2 separate regions of the Homo sapiens genome follow, and region 2 is linked to region 1. A link means that fine-mapping ties the variant in region 1 to the expression of a gene that starts in the linked region. Tissue or cell type: tibial nerve. Region 1 holds a variant in brackets; the other region holds the start of a gene. All regions are shown on one strand. Distances are from middle to middle.

What was found. PIP is the estimated chance that this variant, and not a neighbour inherited with it, causes the effect.
Region 2: SEMA5B starts here. The variant in region 1 is fine-mapped to the expression of SEMA5B in tibial nerve (GTEx, PIP above 0.99).

What each region holds. Positions count from the first base shown.
Region 1 is chr3:122,941,818-122,946,962 of GRCh38, forward strand. It overlaps SEMA5B (semaphorin 5B), which reads right to left. Exons shown (of 23, transcript NM_001031702.4): 4 at 1,619-1,718. Among named protein-coding and RNA genes, the nearest start is that of LINC02035, 58 kb to the left of the region's middle. The variant C/T (reference allele first, on the strand shown) is at 2,091.
Region 2 is chr3:123,025,732-123,030,876 of GRCh38, forward strand. SEMA5B (semaphorin 5B) reads right to left here and starts at 2,032. Exons shown (of 23, transcript NM_001031702.4): 1 at 1,733-2,032. RefSeq lists an enhancer at 2,636-3,143.

The sequences.
Region 1 (5,145 bases):
ATGCAAGATGTTAGCCTTGGGGGAAACTGGGTGAAGGGTATATGGGATCTCTATTATTTCTTACAACTGTGTGTAAATCGACAGTCATCTCAAAATAGAGAGTAAAACAATTACTCTCTTTGCTGGGAAAATAAAGTCCATCCTCCTGTATAGTTGCATATGGACAGACTCCCTCTGGGGGCACAGTCAGGAACCTCACCACTAGGTGAACCTTCAGTCAGGGGTCCTGCTTGTTTGAGGGGGTGGCCCTGCTTTTCACCATATACTCCTTTGTACCTTTTGAATGTCCTACCATAAGACAAAATAGTTAATTTAAAAATTAAAAAATTAAAAGAAAAATGCTTTCAGGCCCAGCTTCACAGCAGCCCTGTGAGACTGGTGGCACAGAGACTGTAACCCAGACTTTACAGATGAGGAAACTGAGGCTCCAAGGTCAAGATCCCCCAGGACAGGAACCCAGCTCATCCACACCTAATCCAGAGCTGTGTTCTTGACTTGCCTCATTTTCATACAGCAAATGAAGGGGTGGAGACACTAAAGAAAGCTCCAGGGCAAGGATGGTCAGCTACAGCATGGCCCGGAAGTGCCCAACCCAGTGGCCATCCTCTCCCCAACCCCACACCCACTGAGTCAGAACCTCTGGGCTGCAGAGCTGAAAAGTAGTGCAGTCCCAGGCGATAACACAGACAGACCTGCAGAGAAACTCTAGGCCTGGGTTAAGGAGACCTGGCTGTAGTCCCCACACCCTGTTGTCATCATGCTATGTGATGCTGGGAAGGTCACCTTCCCCTCTCAGTGCCTCTGCTACCGCCTGTTTAAAATAAGGACGGTTGGATGACACCAGAGATTCTCAAACTTGAGTGTGGTCAGGCCACCTGGAAGGGTTGCTAAAACACAGGTTGCCTCTTCCCAGAGTTTCTGACTCAAGAGGTCTGAGAAGGACCCAAGAATCTGCATTTCCAACACATTCTCGGGTGCTGCTGGGCCAGAGACTGCACCATGAGAGCTACTGGGGTCGGCCCTCTCTAAGCCCCCTCCCTACCAGAGCCAATGTTCTGTGGTTTCATGAGGAATGAGCTCCTCCTAGTCCACCCAGAAAGTCTCCACAGGTTCCCCCAGAGAGTACTGTCTGTTGATATTGGATCTGAACAGTGGACTAAGAGGTCAGGCCAAAGGTAGGTGAGGTCCTTCGGGAAAGGTTCTACCCCTACCCAGCCGTCCCAGGTGCAGGCCGCCGGCTGGCCGGCAGGGGGCCCCTGGGCACCTTCTCTGCATGGAACTCCCGGGGAATTGGCCCAGAAAACCATTCTGACAGCCGGGCAGGGACCAGGCAGGGACCGGGCAGGAGGTGGCCAGCAGGCGTCCCTGCTCTCACTAACTGCCAACCACAGGGGCCTGCAGCTGGCTGAGATTGCGAGGTCAAGAGTCACCCCCACCCCCACCCAGCCGAAACACGCTTCCTCCTGTGGGGGGACAGACATCCACAAGGAGAGGGCCCAGCAGAGAGGATGGGGCCCAGCACGCGGGGCTGCCCAGGTGAGTTCATCCTGAATAATATTCCCTCTACCCAGCTCCAAGCCCCTGCACTTCCCACCCCGACCCTTCTGCCCCTTGTTACCTGGCTCCCACGATGAGCTGGTTCCCGGAGGGGTCCAAAGCCAGCTGGGAGAAATCCCGGGCTCCAGGGTAGGTGAAGTTAGAGACCCACGGCTGCAGGTCTGGTGGAGGGAGAGGCAACCCTGTGGTTACTGTTGGGCCAGAGGCTCCCAGCTGCATCGCAGCAGACCACAGAACAGAAGGGTGAAAGTCAGGGGGAAGTGGGGCGGTGGCACCCGGGAGACCTGGTGCCACCTGCCCACCTCTGTGTGCCCCTAGGGACTTGGGAGTGGGTGTTGTAGTCATTCTTCTGCCACACTCCTTAGCTCAGAGGAGGGCACTACCCTCCCCACAGAGGCATGAAGGGATACTTATACTCGCCCTTGACTTCCCCCAGACCTTCACTAGCCACATAAGTACACACTGGTAAATCCTGCCTGTTCTACCTCTACACTGCCTCTGAAATCCATCCACTTTTTTCCCACTGTATCCCA[C/T]CTACATCCAAGCCACCACCAGCTCTTGTCTGGAGCAGTGCCAACAGCCTCCTAACCAGCCTGGCTTCCAGGCCTGCCCCTCGAGTCCTTTTCCCACAAAGCAACCTGAACGCTTGTTCTCAAATGCAAATGTGGTCATGTCACTCTCCAGCCCAGAACCCATCCATAGCTCCCAACTACCCCCAGGAAAAGTCCAACTCCTGCGAAGGCCCTTGGGTTCTGGTCCACTGTCCTCCCAAGTCCAGTGCCTGGCACAGTGATTATTTACTGATCCCCTGAAAGAATGATGCTTCACCTTTTACATTCCCTAAACTCTCCACCCCAGCCACACTAAAACACTTCACACTTCCCCAAATCCATCCCACAAGAGCCTGCAAACCTTTGTGCTTCTGTTCTCCCTTGATGGAACAATTCCTGTTCACCCCCATCCCTACCTCCTCCAAGAAGCCTTCTCTGACTGCTTCAAGCCAGGCTAAAGGGCTCCCATAGTCTTCTACTTTACTGCCACACTGTGTGTCTAGCCTGGTAGTTTGCCCTGGGGGCCAAGAAAGACTTTGCTTCCTAGATCTCCAGGCTCAGTCCAGCACCTAGCAGTGTTTGAACGAATATATGAATAATCCTCAATTCCTTCTTGTATGAGGGGAATTGGATTTTCAGACAAGATTCTGCAGAGGTGGGAGGTGCAGAGATTGGGCGGTCAGTGTCCACCCTGCCTCCAAGGAAGGTTGTTCCCAATCAAGGCCTTTCAAAGGGACTGGGTGGGCAGAGAGGAGACCTCACGGCCTCTGGGCGGATGGGGAGTGGTCTGGGAGGGCCTGCTTAGAAAGTGCCAGCTGACTCGCCCGGTTTCCCTCCTGCTGGAGACACACTTCTCCCTTCTTGATTCACAGCCTCCTGATAGCTCTCCCTCAGCCTATGCATGACCCATGGATGGGTGGGAATTGGCAGCAGTAAGGAGAGAGCCATGGAGCAGAGGAACTTTCATGCCGCTGTTGGTAAAGATTCAGGGTAATGGGAGGCACTGTGCTTTCTCCCCACAGTGCCTTAGCAACTGACTCACAGAAGGGCCAGGAGAGAGAGAGAGATAGAGAGAGAGGCAGAGAGAGAGAGAGAGTCTGTGTGTGTGTAATCCAAAGGAAATAAATCATTGCTCATTATCCCTCCACTACAGAGTAAAAGCAGCCCTTCATTTCTGCACGACAGGCAAACATTTAATCGCTCCCTGGAGAACTGGAGGTTTTGTGAGTTGGATGTTTTTCAGAAAACTGTGATAGGCATGATTAAAAAAAGAAGAAGAAAGAAATTCTGCAGCAAAATGAAGCAAACCCCTTGGGCCTGCCTTTGCCCCCAGCAGGTGATTATAGGTTGGTGACTATAGGTTGGCAAGAATTGTCATGTAGTCACGATGGCTTTTGGGCAATATAGGATAAGAAGTGGATCTGGAGTCTGGTGGGTTAGGTTTTTAGCTGACCTCTCAGAAATCCTGGATAAATATTACATTACCTTAGAAATGAAACCAAGGATCCTCCTCCTCCAGGAAGCGTTCCTGGATTACAACCTCTCCACCCTGATCTTATTTTGCTCCACATTCTCTCTATTTTTCCATTCCATTCACATTGTATGTTATGGTGTATTTGACCACTCTGAATGTGGTCAAATATTTTCTGTGTGTGTAGGGCAGGGTCTTCCCTGTCCCTATGAGACTGGGTGCTCCCTAACAGCAGCAAGCACCTTAATTTCCTCCTTCCCTTTCAACAAGGGCATTCCAGATGTAGGCAGCTAAATGAGGGAGGAGGTGGCATGACGGGTCTGCAGTAGATACTCCATCTGGGGACTTCCCAGCTCAGTCTTCACTTAGGCCCTTTCTTGGGGAGGAGGGGAAAAGAAGAGGAAACAGGGTACAAGATGGGATAAAAATGGGGAGGTGGGGGTGGGGGCATGGAGGGTGGTGGCCTCTTCCAGTTTCCGTCCCTCTCCCAGTAGCCCTCACCCACATGGGCAAGGGGGATGGGGGAAGTGGGGAGAGAAGGAGCCGGGCATAGCACGGGGATCCTAGGGGGGCCTTGGGAAGGGAACCAGCCTGCTCGTATTAAACAGGCCAAGGGGACCAGAGGGAAGGCTGTCTTTAAAACACCAAGCACGTTCCGAGCTCTGTGTGCGGCAAAGGCTTTGGACGGTGACTTTAAGAGAAAAAGACATTCTCCATGACACGCCTGTGATTTTAATTATAGTCAATTCAATTACCCACCTTGTGGATTAACCACCGTCATTTGTTAAGTCCAGGCTGGCTTCTCCTGCTGCCTGGAAAGGTAACACTGGCAAATGAGAGAATATGCAGGCTGAAGAGAAACACAGCTTGGCCCCCCTTAAGAGAAACCCACAGGGGAAAATTTAGCCTTACAAAACAGAAAAACAGCAGTCAGATTCTGTGACTGGCAGCTCCTCTAGGGTATTTAGGGGTTATTCACAGCTCAGTCAGGTGTCAGGGGAGAGGGAAACTCACAGTTACAAGGCTGGCAGCCTACAGATTGGTCAGAAAGGAAGTGTAACATCCTAGGGGGCTTGGAGGCTGGGGTTGGTGCTGTCCTTGATTAGGGCAACTTCTCCTGAACACAGCATCCCCAGAGCACAGTCCTTTGCCCAGCATGAATTGAGTCCCTACTGTGTGCTCAGCTGTGCTAAGGGATGTGGGAACACAAGAGAACCAGTCCTGGTCCAGGACCAGAACCAGTACCAGCTGGGCTGAGGGACCAAAGGCAGTGACTTTTAACCAACAATACGAGATCATTAGGTACGCAGAGGAAACTCTTGTTCACCTCTGAGGCCCCACAGCATCCCCTTCTGTGCCTGGCACAAAGCAGGGCCCAATAAAAATTCAGCAAACGGATAGGAAAACTCAAAGCTGTCAGAATGGGGAAGGGGAGAGGGGCATTCCTTCATTCTGTAGGAGGATGGGGCGAGAAGTCAGATTCATTCAATGCATACCTGAGGGTCAAAAATGGTCTCAAGGAACCCAGGCACACACAGAAGACATCTCCCACCTCTCTGACTTCCT
Region 2 (5,145 bases), 84 kb after region 1:
TCTACCCCCACGCCCCAAGGCCCAGAACAGTTCTCACCGCCCCATGAGTGACCAAGTGGCAAGTTCCCCCATCTCTCCTATATTTTATCTCCTTTCCTCCTCCGTTGAAAATCTAGACTTCGGGAAAGGTACTGGCTGTTTCTTTCCAAGCTGCTTTCAAATCTGCCCCCCTTTTCCGTAATCTTGAGGTCCAGTTACAAGGTTCAAGTTCCCCTCTTGCCCCTTCCTCAAGGTCATCTGTCCCGGCTTAGAAAAGGTGAGAGGCCACTGCTGATTGTCAAGAAGAGAACAGGCTTAAAAAGATGAGCTGAAGTGGGGAGGCCGAGGAGCAAGCAGGCAGGGAGGGCTGTGGAGAGAGGCCCCGAGGCCGAAGTGGGTTGGGGTGCCTGAGAAAAGCGGAAGGAGGTCGGATTCACTAGGGGCTGAAGGAAAAAGATGGGGTTAGGGCCAGAGAAGGTAGGATCGTGGTGAGGTCTAGACACAGGCAAGCTTCCAAACCCTCAGTCCCAATTCCGTTGGCCGGGAAGGAGTGCATGCCAGGGTAGCCCGCCCTCCCGGCTCCTGCTGCTCTCACCCCGCCCCTCTGCAGAAAGCCTGGGCAGGATCGCAGGGGTGCGGGCAGAATCCAGCGCTCCTCTCTCCCCATCCAGACTCTCGGCCCACTCCCGCCTGGCGCGGCGGGCAGTCGGAACTACCCAAAGACTGGGCTCGAGGTGGGGGGCGGGGGCGGGGAGGAGGGGGCCAGAACGGCGCTGCAGGTGATCCTCCTCCTTGTTTAAAGTTTGCGGTGGGCAAAGGAGTCGGCTCCGTTGGGCCGGGTTTTCTCGAGCCTCGCCTTCTTCCTCCGCCGGTCCGGCGACCACTTCCCTCTTGGCTCCCGCCCCGCGCGGGTCCCCGATCCCCTCTCCCGTCTGCATCCCTCTCTGTGCCCGAGCGCCCCCCGCTCCCTCCCTCCTCGCTGGATCTCCCGCAGGACGTGAGCGGAAAGTGAATGGGCAGCCCCAACCACAAAGACAAATTACCATGAGAAACATAAATCGGGAAATCGCCGCTCGCGTCCCTGCTTCCAGCTGCCGCACCCCTCTCCACCCTCCCAGCCGGGAGTGCGGGGCCCTGAGCCACTGCCCCTGGAGCCTGGTGGGCAGAGTTCACGCTCCGCAGGCCTGGTCAGGGCAAGAGTGTCCTGGAGGCGGGTCTGGGAAGAATCCGGGCGGCGGCTCCGCAGGCGGCGGCGGTGGAGCAGGGACGTCCCTGAGCGGGAGATTTCACACTCTGGGCGGGCCACGCGTTCCCACGCGCCTCGCCGCCCGCACTCTCCCTCAGTGCTGTTTACTAGCCGGCCCTCTCTGAGCCTCCATCTCCGCACCTCTGTCCCTCCGTCCCTCAGCCTCACTCGTCCGTCTCCTTCTCCAGGCCTGGGTCCCGGGTCCCCATCGCCGCTGCAGCCCAGATGCGCCGACCACAGCCCTGGCAGGGCCCAGTGCAACCCGGACCCAAGCTGGCTGGCGGCGGGAACGCAGCAGCGATGAGGGCTCTCAAGCCGAGGTGGCAGCGGGAGGCGCGGAAGCCAGGGGACCCCCTGTCCTCCCGCCCGCAGCCTCACCTACCTGGCTTCAACTTGCCAGAGCCCGGACCCCTACCTCTCTACCCCGATACCCACCCGAGTTGCTGAAGTTTGCAAGTTGCAGCCCCAACCCGCGCAGGGGAAGCGCCCGGGGCTCCCGGGACTCACCTCCCAGAGGCGGGTGCAGGTGCCCGGTTCCCCGCGGCTCCCGACTCCCGGGCGGCGCGGAGCGGCGGGAGCTAACCAGATGGGCTGGCGGCCGGTCTGGGAATGGGGCGGCCGCGCAGGAACGGCCTCCAGCTCTCAGCGCTCCGGTGCAGTCCCCACCCGGGCCCGCGCCCGCTGCGCTCGGGCTCCCAGCAGCCGCTGGATGCGCTGCCGACCCGCCCGGCTCGGCGGAGCTGGGCTCTGGCACCAACCCCCGCGCTCCAACTAGCTCCCGACCCGGCGCTCGGAGAGAGCAGGGAGGAGGAGACCGCGGGAGCAGAAGGAGGGAGGGGGCGGTGGGGGAGGAGTTGCAAGCAAAGGGAGAGAAGGAGGGGAGCGGGAGCGAAAAAGAGGAGGGGGCTGGAGCAGACCTGCCGCGGCGGGCGCTGCACCCGCCAGCCTCGAGGCGCGCGGAGGAGCGCGAGGGGGCGCCCTGCATCCCGCGGCTGCTCGGCCGACTCCCGCCCCGGGCCTGCCGAGTGTGGTGACCAGCCCGGTGGGCCGAAGCCCCTTCCCCGGCCGGCATTCCGGCGGCAAGACCTAGGACTCCGAGCACTTGCCGCCGTTTGCCACATCCCGCCTTGCCGTTCTCGGTCACCCCATCTCGAATGTGACATCCCCGAGGGCCATCGGCGCGGCCTGCCCACCCCAACACTCAGGGCCTGAGGAAGCTCCCCCAAACCCCACTCCGGACTCCCACATTCCCCAGCCCCGTCAGTTCGGAACGATCTTCCTGCCTGTGGATTTGAAGGGGAAGGGACCTCGTGTAAAACGGGGGAGAGCCGTTATAACCTGCAGCGGCAGAGAGGGAGGCTAGGCTGCTGGGCTGGGCTGGAAAGCCAGAACTGGCCGGATTAGGGTTAACCTTGCAAACTGTACGATACCGAGCGAACCTCTCCAAGCCTCAGTTTCCTCAGCTGTAAACTGGGGTTAGTAATACGCACCCTACAGAATTGTGAAGAACGAGTAGGGGATACGGGGAGTAAAATAACATCAGGAACAGTGGGAGGGCAGCCAAGAGATGAGCGATCCGGGGAGGTGGTGGAGCGTTCTCAGCTGAGGACGGAAGGTTTAGCGCAATCACAAGGAGCGAGGCCGAATTGTTTACAAGTTTAAGTGATCTAGTGTTTCTGATGGCTAGAAGGCGGGAGAGAAAGATTCAAGGGGCAAGCTTCAAATCCTAGCTGCCCGGGCTGCAAGAGGGATGGGAAGGGAGCCCTCTGCTGAACAAAAAATATATTTGAAAATGTAAAAAAAGGTGACCTAAGAACGAGTGAGAAAGACAAAGGATTTGAAAAATTAAAACCAGGAAAGTGTGATTCTAAGAGATAACCAAAGAGAACTATGAAATAAAAATAGATAAGTTGGAGGAAGGAAAATATCAAAAGACTTTCTAGAGTATGCCAAAAATTGGATAATTAGAACAAAGTCTGAGTGAAGCATTTTACATAATAAAATTCTGGGTAAAGGAAAACCCAGATAAAGCAGAAGAATTGAGACACTAAGAGCCCCAGAGAAGCACCTCCTGCCTGCCATCCTCCTACCCCTGGACCATGGCAAGAAGCAGTTTGACAGGATAATGGGAAAGAAAGGGTGGTTCTGAATCCAAGAAGGGAGTTTATGAGACACTGTAAAAAGAGAAACAGTGCAAGATCTCAAAGATAGACTTTCTAGGGCAACAGAAATGCTGAAACTCATAATGTGCAGAATGGAGAGAAACTTGCAAAGGGAAAACACGCTCTGGACACAAAGGCAGAGATGCAGAGAAGAAAAGAAAGGAAACGGGCATGTGTGGGCATACCAGTCTGGTAGCCCAGTCTGGGGTAAAAATCAAGTTGGAAGAGGCAGCATGGGATATTGAGTCCAAATCTATCATTTTATCAACAAGGACAATGAGCTCTGGACCATTCTCCCAGAGTCCCAGGCTGAGATAGGGATAGGTCTCCTGATCTCCACCGTGGAACCTTTCCACTGCAATGAGCGTGCCCCCCCCCCAACCCCCATTCCCTGCAGAGCCATGGGGAATGTTTTTGTCATCACAAAAAATAGAAGTATGTGCAATATAGAGATACCTTTTAATTAACACAAAAAACCACGAAGCTATTCCATACTGCAGGACCAGGGAATGAACAGGAGAGCTTCCAATTTGTCTGGTTGGGAGAATAGACAAAATGCCTTCTGAGTGGCTCTGTCAGCCACAGCTCTCCCTTGAAAGATAACCAAAATATTCTCCACCCTTCACACATTCTCTCACCTGCCCTCTTGTTTGCTACCATGTTTTGATTGTGTTCATTCTTTTCTTCCCACTATCATGTCAAGGCCTTTCCTGGCTCTCCCTCTCCATGTTATAAAGTGGAGAGGGGGTTTGGGGGCTTGGCACAGGAAGGGAAGAGAGGAGACTCCAGGCTGGGGACACAAAGAGGGAAATTTTCCTTTTCAGGGGAAGCAGGAGCCAGGACAAGGAGGCACCCAAAGAGACAGACCAAGTAGCAGGGCAGCTAGCAACATTGGGCTAATTAATCCTAATTGCATCCTAAAGCATTGTATTGATTAACAGTGATTACTCAAGAGCTCTCAATACAAGAGAGCTTCAGAAGCCCAACCCTCCGGAAGAGACAGTTTCTTTACTGGCCTGGCTTACCACCTGCTCTTTGGCAAACCCAGCCTGGTTAGAATCTCTGAATCATTTACTTGGAACAAAACCTGGAGCATTGATTCCATCACCACAGTATCACAACCAGCTTCTGCCACCTTCCTTAGACCTTTGCAATAACCTATAAGATAATTGCTTCTGTTAGGAGCAATTCTTCTTCTACCGAAACATTGTAATTAAGCAGAATGGAAATATAGTAATTAACACAGTGTTATCTCAAGCAAACAAGCTAAAGAGCGGTGAATATAGGGGGTGACGGAGTTTTTAGGATTCACTCTTGACCTAGAAATTCCAAACTTATCTTGAACTAAGGTTGAAAGAGTTTAAGAAATAGATCCAAATTCTCATGCTCAAGAGCAGGAAAGGGTGGAAAAGCTAGGAGCACAACACTGTCTTCTTCCTCCCACCTGAGGGCATTTTCTGGGAGATAAAGCTAAAAAATGAGTGCAGGCTCTCCCAAGAGGCCATCTCTCTCTCTCTCTCTCTCTCTCTCTCTCTCTCTCTCTCTCTCTCTCTCTCTCTCCCCTCTATGTGTGTGTGTGTGTGTACACATGCTTGTGCATAGCCCAGGCACAAACACAAACCTTGTCTTGCAGCAAAAGGCAAACAGCCAGTCATATACTAATAGGAGACAGAGAATTGAAAATAAAAAGACAGCACGTATAATGTCCAAATTGTTTTCTGCTCCCAGAATTGCCTGCTCATTGTGCCTGGGGATGGC